Regions from separate parts of the Homo sapiens genome. Here region 1 is linked to region 2. A link means that fine-mapping ties the variant in region 2 to the expression of a gene that starts in the linked region. Tissue or cell type: whole blood. Region 2 holds a variant in brackets; the other region holds the start of a gene. All regions are shown on one strand. Distances are from middle to middle. Region 1 holds the start of HIVEP1 (HIVEP zinc finger 1). Region 2 overlaps HIVEP1 (HIVEP zinc finger 1).

What was found.
Region 1: HIVEP1 starts here. The variant in region 2 is fine-mapped to the expression of HIVEP1 in whole blood (INTERVAL, PIP 0.98).

The regions. Positions count from the first base shown.
Region 1 is chr6:12,005,176-12,021,222 of GRCh38, reverse strand. It overlaps HIVEP1 (HIVEP zinc finger 1), which reads right to left and starts at 8,911. Exons shown (of 9, transcript NM_002114.4): 1 at 8,657-8,911; 2 at 5,555-5,697. The coding sequence starts at 5,594. RefSeq lists silencers at 8,757-8,896, 9,077-9,986, 11,934-12,053 and an enhancer at 10,316-10,860.
Region 2 is chr6:12,109,764-12,125,810 of GRCh38, reverse strand. HIVEP1 (HIVEP zinc finger 1) reads right to left here. Exons shown (of 9, transcript NM_002114.4): 4 at 1-5,921. Among named protein-coding and RNA genes, the nearest start is that of HIVEP1, 110 kb to the right of the region's middle. RefSeq lists enhancers at 6,413-6,522, 6,533-6,642, 6,361-6,655, 6,673-6,722, 11,432-11,481. The variant C/T (reference allele first, on the strand shown) is at 8,489.

The DNA of each region.
Region 1 (16,047 bases), 100 kb after region 2:
ATTCCTCAGTGCTACTTCTCACATTTTAAGGAGTCTGGGCCGGGTGCGGTGGCTCACGCCTGTAATCCCAGCACTTTGAGGCGGTTGGATCACCTGAGGTTAGAAGTTTTGAGACCAGCCTGGCCAACGTGGTGAAAACCTGTCTCTACTAAAAATACAAAAAAATTAGCTGTGCGTGGTGGCAGGCGCCTATAGTCCCAGCTACTTGGGAGGCTGAGGCAGGAGAATGGCTTGAACCTGGGAGGTGGAGCTTGCAGTGAGCCAAGATCACACCGCTGCACTCCAGCCTGGGTGACAGAGTGAGACTCCGTCTCAAAAAAAAAAAAAAAAAAGAAAGAAAGAAAGAAATCTGGTTCTCAGACAGGAAAAGAGTTCTCATTTTTTGCAGAGTGTTCGGAGCCAAATGAACTCAACCAATAAAAATGAAAAACAGCTACACCAAATTTTCAAAACATGTTTTGCAAAAGGTTAATACTTAGTATTTTCCACACTGACTTCCAATCTTAAAGGAAATGAAGCTCTGAAACCCTAGGCCCAAATACAACTAAAGTAAGTAACACCTCTTTTCCTTTTTTTCAAAGCTTTGAAACACATTCACAAGAATGAGTGGCAAAACACGAATAGAGCCCTTTATCACAACGGAAGAGGCATGGAACCCCCTGCAAGTCACCAACTCCTCCATTCCATGTTACTCAAGGGTCCAAGCGAAGGCCTGAGAAGGTGGTGGAGATAACCCCTCCACAGAGCAGCGATGAGTAAGGAATGATGGCTGGGAGACACAGCGCTGCCCTGCTGTCAACTCACCAAGACCATGCGGAAGAGCCACCCCGTGCAGTCCAGTGACCCTTCTCCACGGAACCCAGGACAACATGCTAAGCCTTTCTTCTGAACACCAAGTGCTGCTCTCATGCTCTTCCAAAATTCTTCAACCTCACAAAGGATAGGTCGGTGTCAAAACGGCACCCACCACGTTTCCTGCAGATGGGAAACAGGCATGGAGAACTGATTCTATCTGGTTTAACGCTGGGCCAAGGGTGAAGAGACTGAATTCAACAAAACCACAGTCCTACACAGTATACAGATCACCCATCAAGTCGGACACTGTCTCACTTATGTCCCCAATTTGTTTCCTGCCCTTAACCTAACAATTCTTCTTATACCTTTTCTAGTAAACAACCTCTAAGAGCAAAGAAGTAGATACTCCATCTCCTTATAAAAGCAGTCTATGCAGGCTTAATTTTCAAATCCATGCAAACTTTCTATACTCTTCCATGATAGATTCCGGTATTGCACATTTTTATGCTTGCCTAATACTTTAATATGTGTATACGTGTGCACACACAGACAAGTATACGTATTTTTCCCCAAGTAAAATTCACATTCCTGAAAGATACATGTTACCCTGTGGCTTTGCACATCCGTAGGGATATATCTGTCCCAGCAGGAGAACCAAGAATAAATCAAAGAAAGATTACATTCTAAGAGGTGAAACTACCATGGAAGCATAAGAAAAATATAATTTGAGAAAGTATCAGGTATCTGCCTTTTAATACGGACTTGATTACCAAGCACAAGACAAACATTTCAGACTATTTCCCCCAGGAAGCCTAAAAAGAGGCGATGGGTTTCCTGAAAGCTCCTGAGCTGACGGCAGAAACAGTAGGGGCAAACTGGGCTGTGACTCCTCTTCTGGTCTCCCAATTTCCTCTCCCCGCATTTCTTATCTCATCGCATTAGAGATGTCTTCTAGTAAAGCAAAGCAGTGGATCACAGGTAGGGCACAACAAACCTGATATTCCAAACTGTCACAATGAGATATTAAAGATACGCTCAAAAATTAATCTCAGGAGCTGATGGTTACCTGCTTACTCTAACCCCCACATCCTTCCCAGGGCTCGAGTCCTTACAGACATTGTGAGGAGCGCGGAAGTTTCTAGGTGTCACCGCCGAGCACCAACCCCTCTGTCCCTTTGCTTACTCAGGGTTTCCCATGGGGACCTAGAGCTTCACTCCCGTCCCCCGCTGCTGAGTGAGCTACACTGGCTCAGAAGCCGCCGCTTCCCTGAAGTCTTCCCCTTCCCCATCAGAAGTCCCACTGAGGTGGCTTTAGTGTGCTTACTAGAGCTAATCTATTCCAATCTTTTCTTTAGTGGCTGTGAGTTCTTAACTACCTTAGTCAAACAACTTCCTAAACGCTCACAGACAAGTCAGACACAATTTATTCCAAGTTCTCTTTGAAAACTTTAAAAATATCTTAAAGAAGCAAGTTTTCTTATTAAAACTTTTAACTCTACATATGAAATGTAGGCTTAAATCTGAGGGCCTTTCCTGATCTGATTCCTCCTGATTCTCCTGCTCCAGTATCCTGCCTCTCTGTCTCCTTCTCATCCCTCCTGAAGAGAACTTCTTATGCTCTAGAAGTAGAGAACCATTTAAAGTTGCTCAGAGTCCCCAAGTTATTTCACAACCTGCTACCCCAGGATGAAATGCACTCACTTTGCCTTGTCAGCTTCGCAGATAACTTCCCAGCCTTAAGAACCAAATCCAGGTGTTAACTTTCCTTCCCTAAATCATCATTCTGCTTCACCCCAAACTGCGCCCCCTACAATGGGGACAAAATAATGACTCCCTATCTCTGTGGAATCTCCATACTATTCATTTCTCACCATAGTACATAGTTACATGTTTACCTATCAGCTCTTCAACTCCATTCTTCTTTCGAGACCTGTGTTTTATCATTTTATCCCTATCATAAGAACATGAAGTACATGAAGGTAGTAATGAGAGGTGACACCGTGCTGTCAGCCCTCACTCGCTCTCGGCGCCTCCTCCGCCTTGGTGCCCACTCTGGCCGCGCTTGAGGAGCCCTTCAGCCCGCCGCTGCACTGTGGGATCCCCTTCCTGGGATGGCCCAGGCCAGAGCCGGCTCCCTCAGCTTGCAGGGAGGTGTGGAGGAAGAAGCGCGGGCAGGAACGGGGGCCGCGCGTGGCGCTTGTAGGCCAGCTAGAGTTCCCAGTTGGCGTGGGCTTGGCAGGCCCCGGGCAGTGAGGGGCTTAGCACCCAAGCCAGCAGCCGCGAAGGGTGCGCCAGGTCCCCCAGCAGTGCCGGCCCACTGGTGCTGCGCTCGATTTCTCGCCGGGCTTTAGCTGCTTCCCCGTGGGGCAGGGCTCAGGACCTGCAGCCCGCCATGCCTAAGCACCCCCCACGCCATGGGCTCCTGCACGGCCCCAGCCTCCCCGATGAGCGCTGCCCCCTGTTCCTAGGCGCCCAGTCCCATCGACCACCCAAGGGCTGAGTAGTGCAGGCACAAGGCGCAGGCAGCTCCACCTGTGGCCCCAGTGCGGGATCCACTGGGTGAAGCCAGCTGGGCTCCTGAGTCTAGTGGGGACCTGGAGAAACTTTATGTCTAGCTAAGGGATTGTGAATACACCAATCAGCACTCTTTATCTAGCTCAAGGTTTTTAAATACACCAATCAGCACTCTGTATCTAGCTAATCTAGTGGGGACCTGGAGAACTTTTGTGTCTAGCTCAGGGATTGTAAACACACCAATCAGCACCCTGTCAAAATGGACCAATCAGCTCTCTGTAAAACAGACCAATCGGCTCTCTGTAAAACGGACCAATCAGCAGGATGTGGGTGGGGCCAGACGGGAGAATAAAAGCAGGCTGCCGGAGGCAGCAGTTGCAACTGCTTGGGTCCCCTTGCAGACTGTGGAAGCTTTGTTGTTGTGCTCTTTGCAATAAATCTTGCTACTGCTTGCTCTTTGAGTCTGTACTGCCTTTATGAGCTATAAAACTCACCGCAAAGGTGTGCAGCTTCACTCCTGAACCAGCGAGACCACGAACCTACCAGAAGAAAGAAACTCCAAACACATCTGAACATCAGAAGGAACAACCTGTGGACACGCTACCTTTAAGAGCTATAACACTCACGGCGAGGGCCTGTGGCTTCATTCTTGAAGTCAGTGAGACCAAGAACCCACCAATTCCAGACACAGTAACAAACATGTGCTGAGTTGAACATTTATTTGATACAGAAAGGAAAAGAGCCTATGGCCTGTAAATCTGTGTTTCTCAGGATAGTCATTTTATCTAGAATGTTATGAACATATATTTTAAATATGAAAAATGTTTAATACTTATGGCCTAATAAATAACACCTTCAGATCAATCATGCACTCGTTCCTTCAACAAATATTTGGGCTGCCATTAGCTGCCAGGAACTGTGCTGGGCTAGGGCTGCTGCTCATCTGTATGCTGCACTTGTGCAAACTAGAACAGGGTGCCCTCCCTGGACAGATAAAGCAGGGCCCATGTCTCCAAATGCCCACCTCAGCTGGTACCCTTGGGTCTGGAGGCTTTTCCTACAGTAACAAATGAGAGTGAGTCTCTAGGGAGTTCAGATTCTAGTGAGGGGGACGGGCAAACACATTCAATTTTCAACGTTTTCTATATGACTATAAAAAATCAGATTTCCACACACCACACTTGTTCTCATGTAAATCTCCACCTCATTGAACACTGGTTACTACAATCATCAATTTGAACTTAGGCTGAGGCATCCACCTGAGGCAACAGAGATTTCTAGACAGGAAACAAGCACTATTTCCAGATTCACGGAGGCCATAAAATTGACTGCATTTTCAAAGATCACCTTATGGTGACTAGCCAAATTGATTTTACCAAAAAACATTTCAAATTAATTTATTTGATTTTTAAGTCACTTCTCCCCTACATACGCTTCAGAATTTTTTTTCTGTAATGGTAAATATTTCATAAAACACCATAGTCAGTTTGGAATTATTTGCTTTAATAGTTCTTGTTTTTAGCACTACTACATTCTTATCTCCTGAAGTTTAATATAAAAGATAATTGCTATTCACCATTGATATAACACGAGAACAATACAAATCTTTTTAAACAATAAGCTAGAATACACTTACTTTTCTACTATTAAAAGTATTCGCGGTTGATGGAAAACACACACTTTTCTGTCTTTGCATGAAATGTGTATCATATATATATTTGTGACCCACTGCTTCTTCGTGGAAAATAACTCAGTTTGCCTCTGACTTCTGCAAGTAATGGTCTGAGTGAATGCCTACAATTCTCTTCACTTCTTATCTTGTTAATCTAACTGATGGAGTGGTACAAAAATAAACCTCAAAAGAACTATGGAGGAAGAGTGAAAAAAAAACATAAAATTCTTAATGATCCAGTTGGCAAAGAATATTTAACCATTACTTTCAGATTCCTTGACCCAAATATGGTTCCTATTAACAAATAGCAACTTTCAGCCTTTAATACCCCATCTAATGGTTTGGAAGGAATGCACTGTAATTTCGTCAAATTCAATTCATTCATTCAACAGATATTTATTAAGTATCTCCTGAGAGACAGGAATTGTGCAGGACTGCTGGAAATGAGCAAGAGAAATAGCGCTCCTCACCAGGCAGGGTCAACATCTAACAAACGGCCATTCCTGTCACCAAAGAGATACTTTGTTAAAAGATTTACAGCAAGCCTTACTTCTACTTAATGCAATGCTTTACCTCTTAGATTTCTGGGATGAATTTGTTTAGTTCGAGGCATCTTCTTTGACTCAGGGCCTTCTTTTTCTTCTTAAAAACTGCAGATAAAGCAAGCCACCAAAAGGCAGCTCCATAAACTCAACATACATCAATTAATCCATGTGCTGAAAAAGAAAAAAACGGAGAAGCACATTTTACTACCTTCAGAGGAGAAAGATACTTTAAAAGTTACTGCCTAGCAGAGCACTAACCTAAACTCAAGAAAAAGTAACCAAGCTGGGCACCACTGCAAAAGATTACTAACTTTTAATTAAACAGAGGTCATTTTGTCAGTATCGGGACTTCTCATTAAGAAAACAGAAAAAAAACACCGTATCTTTATCAGACAAGAGTAAAAAAACTCACTTTGTGTTTTAAAACAACAATACCAGGAACAAGTAAAGTATCGCATCAGGCTACAAAAGGATTATGTTAGGCATGTATAGTAAATCTGCCCATTCATAGGGGCAGGGACAATGTCTTGTTCATCTTGTTTTAGAGTTAACTCAGTTAATACAAGGGGTTGCTACTGTGGCTACTCCAGTTATTCCAGACCTCTAGGTTCATGGTAGGACCACACTTTCTGCTTCCCTGTGTTTCCCAGGAACGTGTGAGGAGCTGTAGCTAACGACCTGTGAGCGGATGAGACTTCACTTCCAGGCTGGAGCATTTAGTTATTACCACAGCATGATCCTCCAGAGCTCTTCTCTCTCTGCCATGGGATCAGCACTGCTCCAGACAGCAAATCTGACACCACCACAAAGTCAGCTCTGGCTAACCCACGTGATCACACAGCATACGCCAGAAACACCTTTTTGTTTGCTTAAATAAGTGAGGTTTGAGAGTTATTTGTTACTGCAGCACAACCTAGCCTGTCCTGACTTACAGATTTTAAAACACAGTGATCTGAAATATAATAGGCCAAGATAAGAATGACCCAAAACCGAATCACCTATCTCCCCAAATCAGCCACCTCAGGCTCTTCCACAAGATTCTCAAGGATCTTAAAGCTGAAATTTTAACTTACTGCAAGAAAACTGAGAAGCAAAGCCCACTGTCACTGTTAAACATGAAACAATGTTTAGTCATTAAGCAAAGACACAAGAATAGAACAGTAAGGAAGGCTTAAAGCTTTTGTTATTAGTGGTACTGTAGAAGACAAGAGAACACTTATGAGCACCTACTATGTGCCTGTGTACTTTCTACACATTCCCTAATTTAATCTGTTAACTAAGAAGGTAGCTATCATTTATTCATTTTACAGATTAAAAAAAAATTGGATAAGTAACTTGTCCAAGATAAACAACTAAAGAATGTGGTACTGCATGACTCAGTTATATCCAGTGCTTATTTTGTGGAGCTGATAACATCTACTTTCAGGATTTCTTTCAAGAGGCGCAGCAAGTCATGACGACTTATCTTGGTGTCAAACCGGAGTGGGTTCAAAGCCAGGCTTTACCCCTTACTGTGTGGCCTTGTTCAGGTTACTTAACCTCTCTGAAGATCAGATTTCCCAACTGTAAAATTAGGAAATATTATCCACATCAGAAGGTTGTTATAAGGACTAAACTAAACATTGTAGACGCTTTGCCTGTCACACAAAAACGCTGAACTATTAATTCTCCTTAAGAAAGCCTATATGGGAAGGAATGTGTCTAACATCCCAGTATAAGGTTTTAGAAATTTATGGTTTCATTACAGCAAAGAAACAGAAGGTAAAGAAGGCCACGATTAACTTCAGTATTTTATCCCTGATCTGGCTGTATGTCAGCTCAGCACAAAATTATTTGCAATTTTTAACTACATGGTAAAATAATACAAAAAAAAATGATGGTCTAAGTATTTCATCTAGCATTGTGCTAAGTGATCTATAAAAGATAGGGTTTCTCAGCTCCTTGCTCTAAAGAAACATCCACTATCTAATTCAGGAAGGTTCTGATTCAATAAAGAATTGAGACACAGCTGAACCAAATAAATTGCATGAATGCTTAACTACGTTCGTTGTTAAACTTAAAGCTTTTAAATGGTAACGATATTTGGAAGTTTTTAAAGCGTGAACTCTGACTGTAATCCAATCATGTGATCCCATGGGATCCGGAGCATAAATGTAAAATATGCACATTCCCTGTCCGTAAAGGCTTTCTGCTACCCCGTTCATTGCCTACCCACTGTCCCTAGCTGTCCATCCCATATTTAAATCCTTGTGGGGGGAAGTGGGTATTTCCAAAGACAGCAGCATTGTAGCGACTAGGACGAGTGATAAACCGTTCCTTTACGGGAAAGAAATAAATACTACATGGAGCAAAAACATGACACGATCAAAAAGCGTAAAGACAGTTGCAAGGAGAAAAAACATGAATGAATGTGGAGGGCGGAGCCTGGGAAAACCCCTCTGCAACGCTGCACTGAACAAAGCGCTTCGCATGCCAGGAGGAGGGGGGGAATGGAAGTGCCAGCTCAGGAAGGAGCCTGGAGTGGATGCAGAGAGCTGAGGAGGAGGAGGACGAGATGAGGCGAGCGCGGCAGCCCTGAGACTCCTCCTCGCCGCCTGCTCCGCCGCCGCCCCCTCCCCTCTCCAGCCAGCAACTCCTTCCCGAGCCCGACCCCAAGGCGAGCCCGAGCCGACCCGCACCCCAACCCACCGCCCCCTTCCCAACTGCAGCTGGCGCGCACTCCCAACCCGGAAAGAAACTACCCAGGTGGCCGGGAGTAAACAGGCACTTAGAGCAAAGAACGAAAGGGAAAGAAACCCACAAAGCCGGGAGGTTGGGATGCCGAGGCCTGGTCTCTTTCACCCCCCACCCTCTTGCAAAATGCGTCTGCGGCTGGAAGGCGGCTGGGGAGGCTGGGTCCCTCTGTACCTGCTCGGCTCGCGCGCGGCGAGGGCGCCCAGAAGTGCCAAGGGTCTCCCGCACGCAGCCATCCCCTCTGCAAGGTCGGCGGTTGCACACACACGCACACACACACACACACGCGCGCCCGCACGCCCCCCGCCCGCCGAAGGGATGTGCTCCTGCCCCCCCCCCCCTCCGCCCCGCCGCCCTCCCCAGCTGCAGCGCCCCCGCCGCGGAGCCCGCGCCGAACCTGCTGCCAGGACGCCCGGCGGAGCCGCTGCCGCTGCAGCCGGCCCTGGAGCTGCGCTGCTGATGGCGGCGGCCGCGGCTCGGGATCTCCGCGACCCCCGCGCGGCGGCGGCGGCGGCGCCTGGGATCCCTCCTTCACTTGACAACCCCAAACACAAACATAACCTCCTCCGGCGGCCGCCGCTCCCCGGTCCCCCGCTCCGTCCGCCACCCTGCCGCCGCCCAGCAGCCGCCACGCTGAAGGCCGGCGACTGGCGCTCACACCACCCAGCACTGAAATATTAAACAGGGGAGCGGGCCGGGGGGCGGGGGGGGGAGCGCGGGGCGCGCGGGCGGGGGCCGCAGCCGCCGGGCGGAGGAGGCGGCGAAGCTCGCCGGCGCCCGGAGCCACGGCATGATCGCGGCCGCCAGGGAGCCGGGCAGCCGGGCTGGGGGGCGCGCGCCGCGGCGGGGCGGGCGGACAGACCCTGGGGCCGCGGGGCCCGGGGCGGGAAGGACGGGCGCGGGCTTTACCTCTCCCCCGGGGCAGAGTAGGGCACGTTTAGCGTCTTTGGGGCCGGCGGGAGGAACGCGGGCCGGGCGGCGCGGGGGAGGCAGGGCGAAGGTCGGAGGCTTTCCCGCGGGTGGGCGGGGCGGCAGGGGATCCCCGGGGGCGGGAGGAGGGGAGGCCGCGGGCGGCGACGCGTGGGCGGGGGAGGGGGCGTCCCCGCGGGGGCTGGGGTTGAGGCCGGGGCGAGGGGCGCGGGACGCCCAGGCGCCGGGGCCCAGCTGGGCCGGCGCGGCCGCCAGCTCTGACCGGGTGTAGGGACTGGATGGGCGCCCGGCCCGGCACGAACCCGGAGCCAGTGCCCCGGGTCTCCCCGGCGGGGCGGGCCCCAGACCGCGCCGGCCCCGCCACCTACCCGCCGCTTCGCCCCTCCCCGCCCCGCCCGGCCGAGCCGCCGCAGGGACGGGAGGGGGACGCGGGAGGAGGTGGCAGCGCAGCCCGGGGGGGAGGGGCGGGGTTAGGGACGCGGGGGGCGGGAGCCCTGGGTCGCGACGCCTGGGGAACCAGCACACGGCGGGGGCGGAGGGGCGGGCCCGGCCAGTCACGCGGCCCCGGGAAGGCCTGGCGGGGTCGCTCAGTTGGGGGCGGTTGGTCCGGGAAGAGGGACGGGACGGGCGGGGCCGTAGTTTCTCTTTACCGTCTCTTTACTTTCTACAGCAGGATGTGGGCCGGCCGCTGACGTCATGGGGTCTCCCGGCCCCGCCCCTCGCCCGGGCAGAATGGGGGAGGGGGAGGCGGGGGGGGGGGGGGACCCCAAGGGGGTTTCCTCAGCAACGCGTAGAAGGAAGGGGAAAGTCATTGTGAAACTTAAAACTCATTAACTTTGAAAAACAACTTTTAAAAAAACGGAGGGGGCAGGGTGTTGGTTTGGAGAGTGGAAGGGGACATGTTAACCCTGAACTGAAACCACTTTTTGGTGGCGGATGTTCTATTAAAAGAGCGAGGAAAGCCAAGGTTATTCCAGAGGCCGCTCCAAAGCCCCGCTGGTGCTTCCCAGTGCCGAAGCTGCGAGCGCAATTAACCCCTGCCTGCCAGCCTGACAGCTTATAGGGCCAACCCGGGAGGGGACTTCGGGGACAGAAAAGGGGGGTGCGGGGCTGGTCGTCGGACCGGGCTCCAGGGAAGAGGGGAGAGCGTGAAAGGGGAAGAGGGAGTAATTAGCATGAACCAAGGTGTGACCCCGGCTGCTAGAAAGCAGTAGAGAAAGCAAGGAGTGGAAATCCATGGCAAAGCAGTGAAGAGGGGCTGGACCAGGGTAACGAAGGTTTTCAGGGTTAGACCTAAAGAACGTTCGCAGTTTGGGGCACAGAAATTCCACAGGTCCACCTCAAGAAGCAAAAGTGGCTGGTTTAACGGGCCACCTCAAACTTGAGAGGAATAAGGTGAAACAAAATTGATGCAAAAAAAAAAAAATCCCTGATGAAACTAAACTGGTTTCCCCTTTTAAGGAATAAAAATGCTAAACGACCATACAACCACTAAGACAGCTGGCCATCTGTGCAAACTTGAATTGTTTTGTTCCCTTGGGCTTCCATAACGACGTCTAGGTTTTTCCTGCTGGAGTTGACCCCTAAAATTCCCCTGAGGAAATCGTACCTCTGGCTCATTTGAGCTAAGAAAAGCTCAAACCACCAGAATGGGAATGATTAAAAATGGAATACTCAGTAATGGCGAGTGTGTAGCCAAAAATAATATCATGTAAAGGGAGAAATATGCCTACTACAAAGTAAATTTGGTTATAAAAGCAAAGATCATCCAACTGTGTACATGTACAATTATGTCTAGCATACTAATGCTAACCCTACGATGAAATAATGCAATTTTTATTTTCATTGTGCTATAACCATCTCTCATTTGTGAAATGAAATGATATCCAATAGGTTGCAATCACCAAAAAAGTATATAATGTAACTTCCCAACTGGGTTATTTGAATCCAAAAGTAAACATGCATTTAACTGTGAACGTATAGCTATTAATCTGTCAGGAGAAAGGTAATGTGATAATGAGTGAAGTTTGTATCACTTTGGAAGTGAAAAATGCTAACTGAATGAATAACGTTTAACCCAATAATTGTTGAGCACAACATACTGTCAACACAATGTTTATGTAGGATTCAGCATTACTACGAACTTTCTAACAAAACATACATGCAATTTCGAATTACGATAGGTAAATTTTGACATTTCAACTATTTCCTTGAGCAGCAAACCGATATTAAACTTTTATTTGAAATATATACAATACAGAATAGTTTCCTAGTAAGTTTTTGAATTTTCTAAATGCAGTTTCTTTTCCTAATTCTGCCTACAATTCTTCCCAGATATCAGGATGCAGGGAAACCTGGCTATACTATAAAGTAGCTTCTTTAGGCTTGTTTTGTGGCAAATCCAATATATTTTCTCAAAATGTATCAAATAAACACAGCGTGGGAAAAAAATGAAGCAGAGGGTGAATGTGGAGGATGAATGTGAATGGTAAACTGCAGTTTCAACTGTCAAAAATCCTGGGACAATGCAGGAGCAAGTGACCATTCTCTGCCCCCAAAAAAGAGGGGGCTCCTGGAGGTCCATTTCTCTATGGTTCCATCCCCACCGTCCGCGTGAACGCTTCTGGAGCCCCCCTTGGGGAAAGTGGGGTTCGAGGGAGGATAGTGTCACTGAAAAGCTCAACACACGTTTTTCTTGGCGAACAGTTTGGAGAGGGCACAAAGTCCACCCCGGAGCCGCGTCCACTGGGCCCCGCGCCACCCTGCCCGCCCCCGCCGCTGCGTCCACGGCTCGGGTTCCCACGCGGCCGCCCGGCCGGGCCCGGCTCAGGCACCCCCCTGGCGCGGCCCCGCGGCCCCGGCCCTCCGCCCAGCGCGCGGCCCGGCAGCGCCGCCGCCGCCGCCGCCGCCGCCACCGCCACGCGGAGATCCCGGAGGTTCCTCCCCGCCGGCCGCCGGGTCACGCCGCTCGTCCCTCCCCTCGGCCCTCCGCCCTCCGCCCTCCGCGCGCGCTGGGCTTTCCCATCCACCGGCCGAATCCCCTCCTCCTCTGGGCAACCCGGCGACAAAACCTTCCCCGCACGCCCTGCCAACTCTGCCCCACGCCCAGGCTCTTCCCAAGCCAGGCGCCAGACAAAAGAACCGAGAGAAAAACTTACCCGAACTGCAACACAAAAGTCTGATCCAAAGCTTCCTGGGTTTAACTTTTAATTTTAAAAACAAAAAAGCAGAAACCAAAAGCCTCCTAGGTTGGAAGTGGGCGTGAGAGGAAATGCTAGAGGGAGGCGCTTCATTCCCCGGGCTGCCTGTGCCCCCCTTTCTGGCCCCTGCCCGGGGCTTTGATGTTATCTAGTGCACCGCCTCCATCGGTTTCTACCTTGGGCTCTGCGCCGCCGAGAAGATAGACAGATCTTCCGCACTTCACTTGCAGGTTCTGAGAGAGGCAAGCAGGTAGTCGCGGGAAAGGACCCACACTCCTTAGCCCCGCAGTGAGAGAGGAACATTTGCACGGGCTTCCTGTTGCTACCTGGACTGAAATGAACAATCCACCCCTCTAGTGATCCTGGAGACTTGCACCGTATGGTCTTTCCTGCTAGACGCACAGCGGGAGGCCTCCTACATTAGATTCATTTTCCCTCCACCCGTAGCACAAACTTGTAAGATGGTGGTGGAGTATGTTTCCTGAGGCTTTGTTCGGGTTTTAGATCTCAGTTTGGAAGGTAAATATTATTTCCCTTCTGAGACAGTCCTGCAGCCTTGAAAAGACAAGAATAAAAATCTAAAGGCAACAAATTCTATAACATGCTTTCCATACACCATAAATTCCCTTATGGGTCAAAATATCCGCACACTTTCCCCTCACGTTATGAAAAGCTTGTAACTGTTGATTTTCTTTTGTCTGGACACTAGCAGACACTGGATATAGTTTTTCATTAGGTTAGCAGTCTCGGGACCATCACTAACAAAACACTACAACAAAGAATTTTTTTTTTTTTAACAGATTACTAATAAAGAAGGACGGCAGTGTCTAGCAATCAGCCTTACCTGTGCCTCCACTTTACACCAACAGAAGCTTGTGTTCAGGCCTTGCCCTCTGGAAGATTACAAATTAATGGAGACAGGATAAACACATGGAAAAATACCTAGAGGGAAAAAAAGATATAAGAGGCTTATAAACAGAGCCAATTAAAGTTATACAGTTATTTACATGATCGCTGAGAGGCTTCTGCTTGAGTAGAGGACGGGGTGAGCAGAGTCCCATCCTGGGGGTGAGTTCTCAGTGGGATATTGAAGGAGAGAAAGTTCACGATTTGGCAGTGGTGGAAGTACAGCATTCTAGAGGAGGGAAATAACTTGAAGGTGAGAGCAAGTGAACTGTGTGTGATGGTTTTTCCACCGAGAGCAGAAAGTCTAAGCAAATGGGAAACAAGTAACACCCATGCCAGGACACTTGAGAGTGAAAGGGAAGGTATTAATAATTATACTCAGGGCCGGGCGCAGTGGCTCACGCTTGTAATCCCAGCACTGTGGGAGGCCGAGGGGGGCGGATCACAAGGTCAGGAGATCGAGACCATCCTGGCTAACACAGTGAAACCCTGTCTCTACTAAAAATAGAAAAATTAATTGGGCGTGGTGACGGGCGCCTGTATTCCCAGCTATTCGGGGGGCTGAGGCAGGAGAATGGCGTGAACCAGGGAGGCGGAGCTTGCAGTGAGCCAAGATCACGCCACTGCACTCCAGCCTGGGCCACAGAGCGAGACTCCGTCTCAAAAAAAAAATCATGCTCAGATGAGAGATGTACACCTGGATTGCCCCGGGGCCATTGGGAAGGGTGGGTTCTCTCGTAATGAGCTAGGAAGACAGAATGGGCAGGCAACAGGCAACCAGAGAAGAGCCTACTCAGTCATCATTTGGAAGGAATTAAGACATGATATTACAAACAGTTGGTAGCTATTTGGAGACATCTGGCCTGAGAATGGTCTTTTTAAGGAAAGTTATTGTTACTGATGGATTTAGGATCGATATGGAGGCTGGTTACAAAAACTGCAGTAACATTAGCAGTTGTAATAATGGTAGTGGTAGTGATTAACAGCTATTGAGCGCTTACGACTTGCCGGGTTTTCCTATATAAACTCATTTAGTCCCCGCCATAAACCCACACTGTAGATGAAGAAACAGAGGCTTAGAAATGCTACATAGTCTTCCGGAAGCTACAGAGCTGGTAAATGATAGAACTATGATGGGGATCCAGAAAATATTCAGATGCTCAAAGTTTAAAGATTATATTTTGTGAAAACCAGATTTCAATAACTTTATAATATTCTACATCAATGGAGAGAATAAGAAAAGGGAATTTTTTAAAGTTTTTCAAATTTCGATGTGTCATGAAAATGATGGGCATCCTGGCATGGTGTGAGGCTTAAGGAAAAGAAGAGAAAATGTGTTTGATTTTAACCATGTCTTGTTTTTAGAAGGATGATTTAATTCACATTTACGCCAGTACTGATACTGTTACCTGTAGGAGACGTGCTATTAGAGCAAACCACATCTCATTGAAAAGCCTCTCTTTCAATGGCAAGTAACGACAGTTTAATGGATATTATTTGGTGTACTATCTGTGAAGAGGGGAAAGAAAACTAGATGTGATTGATACCTGCAGTTCCTGAAAGAATTCCTCATAAGCTATGTCCACAAGTGGCATACTGAGGAACCCTAGAGGAAGAATAGCATTCAATGAAAATGACCCAACCTCATCTGTGATCTAACAAGGTGGTATTTTTGTTCCAGTGGGCCCTGAGTTAATACAGTGTCCCACAGTTCTAGAGGCTGGGAGTTCAAGATCAAGGCATCAGCAGGGTTGGCTTTCTCCGAGGCCTGTCTTCTTGGCTTGTAGACTGCCACCTTCTCTCTGTGTCCTCACATGGCCTTTCCCAGGTGTAGTGCTTATACAGAGAGAGGGAGCACTGGCTCTTTGGTGTCTCTTCTTTTAAGGTCGCTAATCCCATTAGATCAGTACCCCACCCTTATTACCTAATTTAACCTTAATTACCTCCTAAAGACTCTATCTCCAGATACAGTAACATTGGGGGTTAGGGCTTCAACATATCAATTGGGATGCTGGGGGGACAATTCAGTTCATAGCAGATACCAAGAGTATATTTACATAGAATTGTAGATAGAGTTAATGCCGGCCTAGGAAAGGGGCTTGTCAGTTGCTTGAGGAGGAGCCGAAAGACTTCATTCTAGACTTTCTTATTTCCATGAAGAATTACTCCTAAATAACTCTTAAAACATTGTTGTGTAAATACTCTTTCACATTTCTAGTAAAATGGTTCTCAAACCTCCTGTGGAAAGCCGTCTTGGTGCACACCTTTAGTGTGTTATAAATAAAGTGATTTTGTCGATTGCCAAAGGATTTAAGGGTTTTATTTTCCCCATTGTAATCACAATCTGAACACATGTAAATTAAACATGATATGTCCTATCTCAAGTGTGGATACCCCCTCCCCTATCCCATAGTCTCTGCCTCATCATCATTCATTAATTTCCTTTATAACATCGCACAGTCTACAATTATCTTATTGGTTTCCATGTTTATTATCTCTCAACCCTCTACTAGACTATGAGGGCCATGAGTGAAGTGGCAATGCTTTGTTCCTCTCTGTCTCCCCAGCACCTAGAACAGTGTTGAAATAAATGTGTGTTGAATGAATGTTGTAGTCTGAGGCCTGCTCACCTTCCAGTTTAGTTGCTAAGCCTTTCATATCAACTTAATTGCTTTCTTGCTTTTGCATTTTTCTTTAAACATCCTTTTTAAATGTTCTGGACTCAAAATTATTATATATAACACAGTTAAAG
Region 2 (16,047 bases):
AGTTATTGCTTGACAGTATAGTGATTTTCCAGTGTTCTGTTTTGAATTAAGGAGAGCAAGTGCAACTTTTGTGGGCAAACCGAGTGGATTTGGATTACTGGCGCTTACTGTCCAATCAGTATAGGCTGAAGTTTTCTGGTCCTTCTGAGGCAAATGCAACGACTTCTGCCTTAAGAGATAACACCATGTAAAGTTGGTTGTAGTTTTCAGGCTAGGGAAAGCCAGCTGCTGGGTGTCCTTGATGTTAAACAATGAAAGAGAAGTGACTGGCTGTTGACTTTGCTCTTGGATGTTCACTTTGTCACCTTGATTTTTAACCCCTGGAGACTTCCTTTCTTGGTTATTGTCTGTACATTTCAAAGGAGAAATATGAGTATTTTCTGAAGGAGCAGGTGAACTTCGAACTGTAAGAGTTAATGATGTGGATGACTTGATGTTTTCAAATTCCTGCAATTCACTTATAGGTTCTATAACGACAAATTTAGAGCATCCTGTTGATGAATTATCAGCTGGTAAAACATTTGTCAAATTAACAGCCTCATTACTAATTTCAGGTTGAGAAAAAACATCCTTTTCCAACATCACACCGTCCAGGGGCTCTGTAGTACAAACCTGTCTCACTAAAATAGGCTTCTTCTGTTTACTAGCTTCATTAACTCTCGAACTCAAAGCCTCTAAAGGTCTCACGTCTGTTGCACAAACAGCTCCATTTTCATCTTTGGCCCGCTTCTGGTGCTTTTCCATGGCAATGTCTAAACTATTTGCTGGGGAAAGCATCCTTTTACTCGAAGCTGAAGATTCTTGTTGAGGGGAAAGTCGACCAACAGATATTTTCTGAGTTATGGGCAAGGATTCTGATAGAGAAGAATTTTGGCTCATCTCTGAAAAAACATTTTCACATAGAAATTCCTTCTCTGGGTTTGGCAAAGCATTCTGATGACCTTTTTGTAATGTTGGCACAGAATTTTGTTCTTCACTGATTGGCACTACACTATGATTAGTCTGGCAAATTGGCTGATTGGGCAGATCTTGGGTCACTAGTATTTGTGGCAGGGATGTGAGTGTAGCAAAACAGTAAGCAGGAACACTACTCTGCAGGCGTATGGGCAGCATGAATGATGATGGCACCTTCTGCACCTGACTTCCAAGGGGCCTGAGCTCTGGTGGTAGCAGAGGATGCGAATTAGACATGCTGTCAATTAATTTGGTTGGTAATGTTGCTGATGTCACACAATGATCTGTTCCAACTGGATCTGAAATAACTTGATTTGGCAAAGAATGCACAGGATTAGAAGAGCAAGATGGGCCTGAAGTGAAAACCTGACAATGCAATTGGTATTTGGGAGCAAAGCAATCCTCACTTTTAGAAGACCCAGATAAAACAGAATTTTTATCTGGCTTGCTACCCTGCGTAGACACTTGCAGAGATAGCTGTGTGCTCTGGTGGCTAGGCGGTGCATGGATTTGATTTAACAAATTGATATCACAGAGCTGTTGAACAGGAAAAACGTTGGTAGAGCTGGAGTTTGATGTTTCTGCCTGCAGATCCTTAACCTGAGTCTGAGAGTGCAAAGTATTTGCAGAAAACTCAGCTAAAGATGTACTAGTGAGCTGAGGCCCCTGATATGGCACTGCATTCACACTGGGAAGAGCAGTATTTTGGAAAGATGTTGGGTGTACAGGAGACAGATGACTATCTGGGGCTATGTTTAAAGATATTTGCCGTACCAGTGGGCCTCTCCTTCTTTCTAAGAGAGGCACATGCCCAGTCACTCCCACTCGAGAAGGTGAAGATGGAGGCTGCAATTCAGTAAGTGGTGTTGTCTGGGGTGGGGTGATGCTTCCACAATCGAATGATTTGCTTCTGAGATCAGAGACCTCCATTGACGTTTGCGTGCAATTAATCTGTTCTGATGCAGTACGCCTCATTTCCCGGTGACATCCAGGAACATTCAGAGTATTCAAGCCAGCTGGAATCATAAGAAACTCGGCTTTATTTAGAAAATCGATTTTGGGGGAAGCCTCCGTTTTAGAAACGTCCTCTATGTCTAAAGAGGCTGAGAAACTTGAAGTGTGAGATAAACTGCTCTCCCTACTTAGACTCCTGGAGAGAGTGGAATCAAAGCTCGATTCTGTTGAGGAATGTTCTATCTCAGCCAGACGGAGCCTTTTCTTTTTGGGTGGCAGTTTCTCTGTTGGCAATTTTGACAAGGTTTCACTACGCTGGGGCCAACTGAACTTCTCTGACTTTTCTTGATCATGGCATTGAGCTTCCAGGTCTCGATCTGGTTCTTCTGTGACCAAAATCTCTGGAACTTGGATGTTGTGCTGCCGGACAAGTCTTGAGGGCTGTCCTAACACATGTCGTTCACTTGGACTCTTTCTGGAGCTTTCCTGAAGTTCTCCTCTGAGAGCGTCTGATAGTGCAAGCTGGTGAGGATGAGACCCGTCCCGAGAAGGGTGACTTTCCTCTTGGGAGATTCCTATCACTTTTAGAGACCCGGACTTCCCCGTTCTATTCAGCTCCTGGAAAGAAACTGGGGAGGCTCTTTCAAAAGGCTCAGGCTTGTCAAATGAGTTGGGCCTGCTCAGGGAGTTGGTGTGCTGGATGACAGAGATTCCAGTTCCGTGTCTCTGCAGTTCTATCTTGTCCTGGGCTGCTGAACTTATCTGTTGTTCCATGATGGTCGACAGCTTGGGATCCATGGTCTGCTCAGGGCCCCTGGCAACAAGGTGAATATGGGAGTTTTGCAACTGTATATTTTTATGCTGCTGGTCACTTCTTATGGTAACATTATGTTTAGGCAAACTGGGATTACAGCCCAGAGCATTCTGAAACTGAAGGCCTTCAGAACTTTTTGGAGATGTTCCACTTTCATTTTGCTGAAGTTCTTCATCATCCCCAACACTTTTCATTTTCCTCCTTTTTCTTATCTGGGGCGTCTGTTCCCAGATGCCGGAGGACCCAGCGACTCTGTAGTGTAGAATCTGAGGCTGCAGACCGCCGGGCACAGGGCTGTGCTCAGGTTCTCTCATGGCTACCTTTGTTTTTGGTCCATGTAACTCAGAACAGTAAAATTTCTTATGATTTTCAAAATTTTCCAGTTTCCTATACCTGTTTCTACAAGTTTCACACTCAAACATTGTCCCTCGCCCTTGATGAGACTTCTTTTTTTCTATATGTGGGCCTTGTGCCAGTGCCTTGCTCCTCACTGACATGGCTTCACCAGCAGCATGGCATCCTTGGTGGCTCTCATCCAGGGACTGTCCAGTACCAAGAACATGACTTTCATTTGCTGAAGAGTCTTCTATGGCTGCTTGTCTCACAAGTGTACGGGGATGCCCACTCTGGGGCACAGGAGCGTTAGGTCCCGATACAAAGACATCATCATAGAAAGCGCCAATTTTGTCATCAAATGACTGACTTCCTCTTAGTGGATGAGGAGGAGGTATTATATTTGCAGGTACTGCTGAATAACCTGTGGTCGGCATGGAATTACTTCTTGTGATAGGTAAACAGTCAAGTGAAGGTACAGACAGAAGAAACACTTGCTTTGATTTTTCAGTAGGGGTGAAAGGTGACTTCGGTATATCAGAGCTTGAACTTGTTCTCCGTCCCACTGGTTTTAAATCAAACTGGAAAGAATCTTTAAATATGTATGATTTGGGGGAATCAATGCTTCCTCGTCTTGACAGTGAGGTTCTCCGCGGCTTCACACTATCCAGTTGCTTGTCATCTACCAAAGCTTCATTGTCTGAGATAAGCTTCGATATCCGCTCCTCAAGTGTTTTTGTGGCCAAAGGTGGGCGCATCTGACCTGGTAAAAGCAATGCCTTTTCCCCTGTGGGCAAAGCAGAGGGTGTTGACGTGGTGACAAGAGCTGCAGAGGGTCCGTTACTCCTTCCAGAGTCTTGTTCTGTGCTGGGTAACCTTCTGGCAAAGGGAGTTGGTGGACTCACTGTTTGATCGGCACTTTCAGAACGTGAAAAGTAACCAGAATCCGTACTTCCTAAACTTCGAGGACTCAGGAGCTTTCCTTGCTGCTCTTGGGAGTAATCGGTAGCCTGCTGCCTTTGTAGCTGGGCGTGTACCGTTCCTACGTGAGAGTCTTGCTTTCCTTCCAGTGGATTCATGTCGCCTTTCTGGTGGGAATTCTCATTAGTCTCCAACCTGGAGACTCCACCCTGGGACATGTTGGCTGAAAGTGGCTGTACGTTTGTCACCTGAAGGTCCTTCTGCTTTTGTGCACTAGAAAGTTCAGGCTTGGGATCCATGGCCTTTGGACTGTCAGTTCTTAAGGGGGACACAGTGACATGGTGGACCACAACTTTCGGTAACTCTGTCACAGCTTGTGATTCTGCAGATCTGTCCTGTAGCAAAAAGTCACCTATCACATTTTCTGGACTGCTTGGAGTGAAGCTTGATTTTAGTAAAGTTTCAGCATTTGACATCCTCTTTATTATGTGCACAGGCTGCAGCTCCATGGCGCCCAGGTCATGCTGTCTCTCATCAGTGGCGCCTTCCTCCTCGCTCTCCCCACTGTCTTCTACGTCTGAATGAATACTAAGTGCTTTGGGGGACTCGTGGGACAAGAACAAGCCACCAGCATCTGGTTGCAAGACAAGACCCAGTTTGATAGTATGTGCGTGGGATTTCTTGTGCTTATACAGATTACTTTTAGTCTTAAATGAAAATCCACAAGTCACACAGGGATAGGGTCGCTCTCCAGTGTGGGAGCGGATATGCTTTAAAAGCACACTAGGCTTTGCACATGCTCTATTGCAATACTCACAAATATATTTTCCTTGTTTTTTTGGCTTCTGATCTTTCAGAAGAAGATTGCACATTTGCTCTACGCTTTGATTAACAACAGAGGCAACATGAGTTGAATTATAGATTGGCATGGGGGGCGACTGTGTAGAATTAGCCGGACTTATTGACAAAGGTGAAGCAGAATCCATTTGCTGGTTTTGAGGAGTAACCTGAGATCTACTGGAAGGTGAAGTTAGGCCTACAGATGATGTCACTGCTATATTATAAACCTGTTCAAGTTTGGCATTCTCTTGATTTTGCAGATTTGTCAGTGATCCTGTGAAACCTGAACACCCCGGAAGCTGTTGATTATGTTGGTTGGATTTGGGAACAAAGTGTTCATGTTGATGATACAAATGAGAAGCTGACTGCATTGCCCCTTGCTCATTCTTCTGAGCAGCAGACATATGGACTGTGTATGAGGTACAAGAAGACTGTGATTCAGCAACCAATTCCTGTGAAGTCTGATTTGGGGCATCCATTGAACTGTTTTTTAATTTGGGAGGGGAACGTGCAGTTTTATTTGGCCTCAGTTTTTCTGTCTTAATTGCACAAGGTGAGCCCTTTTGTGACAAGGTGCTCAGTTCTGGCTCCATTGCTTTCAGTAAGACATCGAATGCAGTGTTTGTATAGGAGGGGGACGTAGTGCCACAATGAGAAGAGATGCATTCGCTATTGTCAGTCCTGGTTTTACTTGACAAGGAACTTGAGTCACATTGTTCATCGAGGTCACTGAATTTGGCAGGATCAGCGCCTTCGGATCTCCATCTACGCAGTTCAGATGGTTGCTGCAGAAACAAGGGCTTCTTTGGGGAGACAGATTCTTCAGATTTTGAGGCTTCAGCAATTATTCCAGGTGTTTCTCCATTTTGTTTGGTAAACTGCTTCCCATTTTTTACAGGAATATAATTCTGTTTCTTGTGAGACTCCGAAGCACTATGAAGAACGGCGAAAGATGACTCTTCTGTATTTTGTTTATGTTTTGCCTGAAGAGGATTTCTCAGTGGGGATTTTGGTATTTTTTTCAGGTGATTCTCAGCTACGATCTTTTTGCGTTTCACACCTTTAAGGGATTCCGAAGTTCCTTTAACACCAGCCTGTAAGATTTCTGGAAAAAACAACAACAACAACAAACAATTGGTAACATTGTACATACACCAACTATAATTTTTTGAAAATTAAGATTACTATCATAAGGACATTATGACAAGTGAAGAAAGTATTTAAGGAAAGTCTATTTTTTAAATAAAATTGCACTTCTGCATTCCGGAAATTGAACAATGATGCCAATCAAAATCTATTGAAACACTCATTCAAAGACCTAAGTGTGCATTTCTAGAATGCTTATGTTCCTTTCTTGAATAATCAACATCCTGGAACTAGATCTTTCAAAACTGAATTATCTTTCCCCTTTTCACTATCATACTTAAACAGTGCTCCATGGGGTTAAAGAAACTGGTAACTAACAAGAAGTTTTGAGCTTGTCTTACAGCACTGCAGATAAAGAAACAGCTTGTTAGAACTCCCTCTGCTTGTAACAAAACTGGTTGACTGGTTGAAGCTGGTTGGAACTGGTATGGCTGATTGGGATCTGCACAGAATAGACTTCTTGCCAGATGAGGGACTTTCTGATATCAAAGCCAGTATTTTCACCACAGGTTTCACACCAACTCCCTCCGAATTTGCAAAGGCAACCCATGAGGAAGCACGAAGAGACAACTGTGCCTGCTCAAGGGACTTTCCAAACCTCCCCTCCCTTTCCAACAATCATTAACCAACCCCAAAACTCCTCCTCCAGCATCTCCTCCTTTTATATACTGCTTTAAGCTGGTAAGGGAAGACAGAATTGAGCCCATCTCCTGCATGGCTGCCTTGCCATTAATCTTTCTCTCTATAAAAATCCAGTGATTCAGTGTTTGGCTTTTCATTGTGTGCAGACAAATGGACCTAGATTGGCTTGGTAGCAATACCTGAGGACTCTGTCTACACAACAGTCTGAGAAGGCTGGCCAAAAAGAAGAAAATTCAACCCTTTAATGCTGAGTATTTGACTGTCTTATCTCATTAAGGTTCTTTTAAAACAAACTTTTCAGCAAATTTCTAAGTATGCAAAACTGATATTTTCAGGAGAAAAGGGGCTGCTAATATAATTTCTAGAGCAGACCATAGTCAGGACAGCCATGAAGTATTGCTGATGTAGCAATTATATCAATGAACAGAAAATTATGAAACTAAAATAATCCACTTATTTGTGGTTTCTTACCAACAAAATTAAAAAGTCATAAGGTTGTAATGGGCCTTGGTTTAAAAAAAATCACCACTTTAACTCAACAAAATATTCAATGGCTATGTTTCTTTGTCATTAGCAATAGGTAGGGCAGGTAGGCAGGTAGGGAGATAGGCAGAAAGAAGGTAAAACTTATTGCAAGAGAAATGAAATCACCTTAATTTCTAGTTGTGTTGGAAATAAATCAGTATTTAAGTGACAGTGCCCACAATCTATCAACTACTGTATTTTTGAGCAATAATTACTTGCCATGATTTACTTTGGTTTCCATTTGTTGGATTGTTGGGCATATGAACAAAAAATATTCAATCGTATATTACTCTATTTGTAGAAAGCCAACTACTTAATTCTCCACTATTTTCAAATAGCTGTTGCAACGTACATATTTGAAATTCATATTAGACCAAAATGTCTACACTGTAATAACTACTTATTGAGAATAAAATTTACATTAGAAATATTCTAGTAATATTGTGACATCAGTTTATATGCTCTCATATCATAGTTTAATGAAAAAAATGCATACTATTCCATTAAAGATATATTTACCCACCATAATAAAAAAAAAAACAAAAGGGGGTCTCATAACTAAAATATTTGAGCTAAAGAACAATAGAAAAAAGTATCAGTATTATTCACTTTTACAAAATGTTGAACAAACATTTTTTTATTCTCCAATCCACTCACTCATGAAATGATGTTTTCCCACTGGTTTTCCCTTATTAAGATGAATGTAAGAAAGTCAGTGATGCACTTTTTGACTCTCATTAACTCTATCAGGCAAGTAGGCAAAGTGAAAAATGATGCTCATCAACCTGGGCTGAGTAGTCTCTCTATCCACTTCCAAAAGCTAGATGTGGGTATCATAAAGGTGAAAGCCAGGAGGCTATTAAAATAAATACAAAAACAGAGATGAGAAACCACTTGGATGAGAAGCTAGCAGAGCTGAAACACCATGGACTTAAAAATAATCTACCCATGTCAGGCCCCATCCAGGACCTATTCAACCAGAGTCTTGGACAGGGTAGGTATGCCTGTTTTGCTCTGCTTCACAAACATTTTAAGATAAACTTTTATTTTTAGATAAAGTTATGTTATTCAAAATTAAATAATGTCTTATACTCCAAAGAAAAATGCAAAATTTCAACCCAGAAATACTGTATGTGATTTAAACAACAACAACAAAAACTGTAACCTTGTACTTAAAAGAAAATGACATTGAAGTTAAGATAAAGGAATTGCTAAACTTAAGATCCATATTTCTTTATAAGAGAAACTATTTTCTATAAATCTACTGGGAGTTAAGAATTGGAAAAACACATATGTTAAATGGAACTTTTGAACTACACGTTTTGATTTTACATATAGATGACCTCCTCTCTCATTTGT[C/T]AAAGCTTATAACACTTACATTTTATCTGTATCGTTGTTTATACTTAGTTATCTATTTAATTTTAACACTTGACTGGTGCTATTCCCTTCAAAACTTTGCATACTCCCTTGTTTTCTGGCAATTTGGTTTACACCTCAGAAAACTTTTCTTCTATGATATCTTCATATACGTTTTCTGGTCAACTTTTTTTGGAATAAAGTTCTTTTATTTAGGGAAAAGGTTTTTACCTTTTGTTTTCTCTACAATTTTCTAAAGCTTTTCTCTTATGTTGACAACTGAATTGTCACACCATTAAATTCTTTACTGTTTCATATTTATTCATTAGTTTTGGACTGATAGTATTTTGTTCTCATTTTATTCCCTTAGTTCCATATTTCCCATTTCATCTCATTTTATTGTCTCATATTAAGTTTGAACTCTTGCTTAAATACATTTATGATCTTTAGTTCTGCACTTAAAAACACTTGTGTTTCTGGAGTAATATTTCCTTTAAGGCAGAATTTGGGCCTGTCTTCCACATTCTCAAGGCTCTTCTACTGCCTGAGATCATGGGGAATGGTGATCTCACTCAGCACTCAGCTGAGAACATACTCCTGACAGTCTTTTTTGAGTTGTGTTCATTCTTCTGGATTTTGTTGGATCTTCTTTCTTTAACAGGTTCACTGTCCTTGTTCAAGGGATAAAGCCCACTCTACCACTGGTGCTTGGGAGGGGAGGAGGTAGTGAGATGACCCTGGACCTTGGATCAGTCTAAATTCAAGGACTTTTTTTTTTATTGTAAGGAGGGGAGAGGCTAGTGGAGGGGATGTGAGAGATGCAAACAGAAGGACGATGGCAGGCATATGTGAGAAGAATACTGCACTATCATTTTAGAGGTGGAAGTGAAAGCAAGGTGCCTGCCTCTCCATACATTTTTCACTCTCCACCCCTTGATTCTCAAGATCTGGGGCTGAACAGCTCAGAGTGGGCAGCTAAACCATCAGGCTAGGAATTATAGACAAATACCTTCTCTCGAGAACCAAGGCCCTAGAGTGGAAGGCAGCAGACCCTTGGGTTTTCAGATAATGAAATACCTGGAATAGTTTTTTAAACTTACCCTCATCTTGATTAATTTTAAATCTATCTATTAAAGAGTGACTGGAGTTATTTTCTCTTGTCCTCTTATCTATAGAAAAGAGCACAATCATCAAACCTTGTGGCTATATCTACAACATAGTCAAGAGGATGCATAGACCATAGTGCTTCAAAGCAGAAATAAAATTGGTATGAAGAGAAGGAGGAGACAGCTGTTCACCATTAGCACTTGTGCTTTTCCATCATTTTAAAGGCAATTTGTTGTTAAGGTGAATTAAATATAAAATACATTAGAGGACACAAAGAGAAAGACCAAGCAGTAGAAGGCAGCCCAAGGATTCACATGGAGCTTATGCAATGTGATCACTCCCCACCAACCCCACCAACCAGCACCCCCCGCGAGCCTCTGCCTCAGAGGAAGTACACTGGCTTCTATTCACCACCCTGATTCCAGAAATGTTGTCATTTTGCATGTTTGTTTTTACCATTACTAAGTTTAGACATACTTGGTGTACACCAGCATTGAAACACAACCCTCTCTCCTTACACAGGGAGAACTTACAGTCAGATTGGGAAGGGAAGAGAAAGATTCAAAATAGGAGTCAGGCAGCCACTGAAAACTGTATTCTCCCACTTGTCAGTGTGCTACCGGTAATGACTGAAAATCAAGCAGAAACTCTGAGGTATCAACACATCAAAAATCCAAACACGACTTCATATAACAGATACAAAGCACACTCAGGAGAGGGACCAAAATCAGCAGCACTGCCCCTGTCAGACCACTGACCTGGGCTTCGAAAGGAAAGCCAGCACTCTTCATCAGTTAGGGAGTCAAGAACAGCTTAGAAAGACCACAGGGGCCACTTTGTTAAAAAAAAAAAAAAAAAAAAAAAAAAAGAATAGTTGGGGAAGTATAAGTTAAGATTCCTGTGTTCTATGTGAAGTCACTGACACTTTATTTTCCAAGGCACAAATCTATTTATTAGGGCTTCTATGTTTCTTTGAAGAAGAGCACCAACGAGTTTGAAATATCACTGTCAGCTGTTTTTCAGGATTACTTCTAGAGAGTAACAGATTAAAAGCAAACAGATTAAAAGGCTCAAGAGTGCATCTTAGTTGCCAATAAAGTGTGGTAAAGCATATTCTTATGGTAAGTAGTAGGGATGATAAACCACAGCTCAGAGTGTGCTTAAAATCCTGTCTTGATTGAAGGTGAACCTCCAAATAAATCTCTTTTCAGATTTACTCAGAGACATGTCAGCTGAAAAACTTCAGATCTCTTTTGGGCCTTAGGAACATAAGTAGTACCTGTTTTCTAACAATTGAGATCATGCTCGGCCAGAAGGTCAAGAGATCAGACCAGGAGGCCATTCAGAAGGCTTTTTTCAGTAGTTTGTGCAAGAGTTAAAATGCTACCCTGAACTCAGGCATCAATCTCAAACTCAATATACATGCACAGAATTGTAAACTGTAGCTGGAAATTCAGGACAAGAAATTTTCAATAGGAAATGGTTAGGCTAATTATGGCACAGCCACTTAACATAACATTATACATCCATTTAAAATAATTACAAAGATTACACAGCAATATGAAAATTATGATACATTAAGTGTACGTGCACATTCTTTTTTTTTCCCTCTAGAGAGAGGTCTGGGCTAGAGGCACAGATCTGGGAATATGCGGTGAGAGCTGTTTTTGTAAAAGGACATAAATGATAAGCCAAAGAGAATATGCTGTGGAGAGGGGAGGTCTGACATGAGAAGGATGGGTAATCCCTACACTTAGGGGTGAGCTAGAAACAAAAAGAAACAAGGGGAAATCAGAAAGATGAGACAAAACATGTGATAGTGGAACAGCCAGGAAGTGGGGGTTTAGAAACTTTTAAAAAGGAAGATGTGGCCAATAGTGTTGAATATCACATTCAGATACACAGATGAAAATTAACAAGAGGTCCCTGGGCTTGGTGGTCACTGGGACTAGGAAGACATCATTATCTCTGAAAGCAGTGTCAGCGGGGTTCTGGAGGTAAAAACCCTATCATATACCAGTAAGGAGTGAAGGAGGGCATGAGGACGCGCAGGGCCCGCAAATACAGGCGCTCTCCTGGGGATATGGCTGTAAAGTAAAAGAGAAAGACAAGACGTCAGAGTCAGGGGAAAGGAGGGCAAGGGAAGTCTTCTTTAGGATATGGGAGGGTTGAGTGTGTTTATAAACAGGTAGTGAAAGTTGGCAGAGAGAACCAGAATAAAGATACAAGACAGAAAAATTAATTAAATAAAACAAATTTAAAAATTAATTAAACAAATTAAACAAATAATGTGTGATAAACAGGTATACTCAAGAAGCTACCACATAGATGTGGGAACAACTGGTGAAGATGGAGGTAAGGAAATGCCTGGGAGAAGTTTCGTGGCAGCAGCACATCTGACTAAAGCCTACAGAGACAGGCAGAGAGGGACAAGTCCTTTCCAGTTAGGGAACAGCATGACAAGGTGAGCAGGAAAATGCATAAGACTCACCTAAGAGCAGGAAGCCAACCTTGCTGTTCATCTATTAGTAGAGTGGGAGATAGGATGGAAAAGGTATTCTACAACCAGGTTACTCTAGGCCTTGAACACAAAGCAGAAGAGACTGGAATTCACTTAGCAAGCAAAAGGAAGCTACATTCAGATCATCACCAAGTTCTTCCCATTCCTCATGCAATGTAATTCAAGCATCTTAACATGGCCAAAAGACTGCAGGGACATCTGACTCACAACTCTCCAACCTCCCTCTACACCATTTCCCCTGACTCACTCCGCTTCAGCCTGCGGTAAACTTTCTCCTCCTCGAACTGCCCCATCTCGTTGCTGCCCCTGGGATTTGTACTTGCCATCTCCTCAGCATGAAAAGCCCTCCCTACACCCAACTCTCAAGATGACAGGGTCATTTTCAACCTTCAACTCACCGCACCAGTGTTACCTCTGGGCTGTTCCTCCACTCTACCTAAGGTCGGTGTCCCTGTCCTGCCCACCCCACCCTTCTTTACAGTCATAATCTAGAATGCCCTGTTTGCCTGTTTACATGTGTATCTTCTGCCTTTGAATTAGGATGGGCTGAGGGAGTCCACACTCACTTACAGGCTCTTTAACATGGGCCCGCACCAGGTGCTCACATGAGGGGCAGGACGAGGCCAGAGAAGTGCCCCAAGCGTGTAAGCAGAGTGGACAGGCATGAAGCCAACTCTCCCTGAGAGCTTCCTCCCCCTGAGCAAAGCCTTGGGCTTTAAGCTGATAGGGAAAGGGCAGCAGATGTCACCACAGGGACAGACAGAAACACCCTGCAGCCGGGAGAAGAACAGAGGAGGACACCCTCTACCCCAGGGGAGGCAGGAAACTGTCCTGAGACCAAAATCCCACACCAATAAAATTTCAGTCCCTTGCCATGGGGGAGGGGCTGGAAACACAGGGACCGCCAAGACTGAGGCTGGACCAGGAGATGGAGCAACCCTCCCCTCCCCACCCCATCCAGAAGCCCAGCCCTGTGGGGGAAGCAGCAGCAGCCCACTGCTAGGGGGGCGGTGAGGAGGTGGGCAGGGACTCCCCCAGCCTATGGCGCAGGAGGCTGCAAGCTGAGCAGGGGCACTAGCACTGAGAAAAGCCCCCAGAGTCCCAGTCCCCGCCATAAGCACAAGGAACCGGCAGGAAAAGGAAGAATAAACAGGGTAGTAGAAATACATGAAAAAAATAATGGCCAAGAATTTTCCCCAAATAATGAAAACAACAAACCATACATCCAAAAAGCCTAAATAACCCATAACTAGGATGATTAAGAATATGATACGAAAGAATAAGCATAAAGAATAAAAAAAATACTGAGAAAAAGAAGAAAAGGGAGAAAAAGAATTTAGACAATATATTCAAACTGCTGAAAACCAAAGATAAAGAGAAAATCCTGAAAGCAGCCAGAGGGTAGAAAAACATTACACACAGAGAATAAAAGATAAAAATTAAAGCAGACTTCTCAACGGAAACCATGGTGTGATATTTTTACACTACTGAAAGAAAAAAAAATTGTCCAACCCAGAATTTCATATTGAGAAATAATTTAGCTTTCAAAAATGAAGGCCATAGCAAGATTTTTTTCAGAAAAACAAAAGCTGAGAGAATTCGTTGTCTTCAGGCCTATACTGAAATGTTAAAACTTAAATGTGGATCTATACATATAAATGAAGAGCTCTGAAAATGACAATAATAAAATTATAAAAAGAACTTTAAGAATTTTATCACTTCAAAATTTCACCGTTTAAAAGATAATACAGTGTAAAGTTGTACTGTCCAATATGGCAGCATGGTGGGTGAAATAATGGCCCTATAAAATGGCCACACCCCAACCTCTGGAACCTGTAAATGTTTCTGAATGTGGCAAAGGGGACGCTGCAAATGTGATATGGTTACGTATTTTGAGATGGGGAGATTATCCTCGGTTACTGCAGGACTCTTTCAAATTTAATTACACAATCCCATAACAATGGAGAATCTCTTAGGGCTGAAGTCAGAGGTATTGAACAACTGAAGAGGCAGGAGAGAGACAGGAAATGAGACCTGACCTGCCATTGCTGGCTTTCAAGACGGAGAAAGAGAGCTCCCGTCCAAAGAACATGGTAGCCTCTAAAAGCTGGGAATGGACTTCAGCTGACAGCTCACAAGAACATGATGACTACAGCTACAGGACTAAATTCTGCCAGTAACCTGAATAAGCAGGAAAACAGAATTTCCCCTGGAGCCTCCAGAAGACAGACCTGCTGACATCATCATTATAGCCAGGTCCTGTGTCAGGCTTCTGACCTACAGAACCACAAGACAGTAAGTACTGTGTCAACTGCTAAGTTTGTAGGAATTTGTTACGCAGCAAAAGAAAATGAATACAGGTATACCTTGCTTTGTTGAGCTTCGCAGATACTGTGCTTTTTGCATTAAGGGTTTGTGGCAACTCTGCATGGAGCAAGTCTGTCTTGGCACCATTTCTCCAAACATATGCACTCACTTCTGGTGTGTGACATATTTTTTCTAATTCTTGCAATACTTCAAACTTTTGCATTATTATTATATCTGTCATGGTGATCTTTGATCAGTGATCTTTGTTTTTACTGTTGTAATTATTTTGGGGCTGCATTAATTGTGCCCATGTAACACAGTAAACTTAATAAATGTTGTGTGTGTGTTCTCACTGCTCCATCAACTGGCCATTCCCGTCTCTCTGCCTCTCCTTGGACCTGCCTATTACCCAAGACACAACAATGTTAAAATTATGCCAGTTAATAAGCCTACAAGGGCCTCTAAGTGTTCAAGTGAAAGGAAGAGTTGCATGTCTCTAGCTTTAAGCCAAAAGCTAGAAATGATTAAGCTTACTGAAGAAGGCGTGTTGAAAGCTGAGATAGGCTGAAGGCTAGGATGCTTGTACCAGCCAGTAAGCCAAGTTGTGAATGCAAAGGCAAAGTTATTGAAGGAAATTAAAAGTGCTACTCCAGGAAACACCTGAACGACAAAAAAGCACAACAGTCTTATTGCTGATATGAAGAAAATTTTAGTGGTTTGGACAGAAGATGAAACCAGCCACAACATCCCTTAAGCCAAAGCCTAACCCAGAGAAAGGCCCTAACTCTCTTCAATGCTATGAAGGCTGAAACAAGTGAGGAAGCTGCAGAAGAAAGGCTGACAGCTAGCAGAGGTTGGCTCAAGAGATTTAAGGAAAGAGGCCATCTCCATGACATAAAAGGGCAAGGTGAAGCAGCAGGTGTTAATGTAGAAGCTGCAGCAAGTTATCCAGAAGATTTTGCTAAGATAACTGAGGAAGGTGGCTACAGAAAACAACAGATTTTCTATGTAGATAAACCAGCCTTCTATTGGAAGAAGATGCCATCCAGGGCTTTCATACTAGAGAGAAGTCAATGCCTGGCTTCAAAGCTTCAAAGGACAGGCTGACTCTCTTGCTAAGGGCTAATACAGCTGGTGGCTTTAAGTTGAAGCAAACGCTCATCTACTATTCTGAAAATCCATAAGACCCTTAAGAATCATGCTAAATCTACTCTGCCTGTGCTGTACAGATGGAACAACAAAGCCTGGATGACAGCACATCTGTTTATAGCATGGTTTACTGAATATTTTAAGCCCAATATTGAGAGTGACTACTCAGAAAAAATAGATTTCTTTTAAAATATCACTGCTCATTGAATAAACCTTGTCATTCAAGAGCTCTGATGGAGATGTATAAGAAGATGAATGTTGTTTTCATGCCTGGTAATACAATGTCCATTTTTCAGCCCACGGATCAAGGAGTAATTTTTACTTTCAAGGCTTACTATTTAAGAAATTCATTTCATAAGGTGATAGCTGTCATAGACAGTGATTCCTCTGATGGAGCTGGGCAAAGCAAATTGAAAGCCTTCTTGAAAGGATTCACTATTCTAAATGCCATTAAAAGCATTCATGATTGATGAGAGGA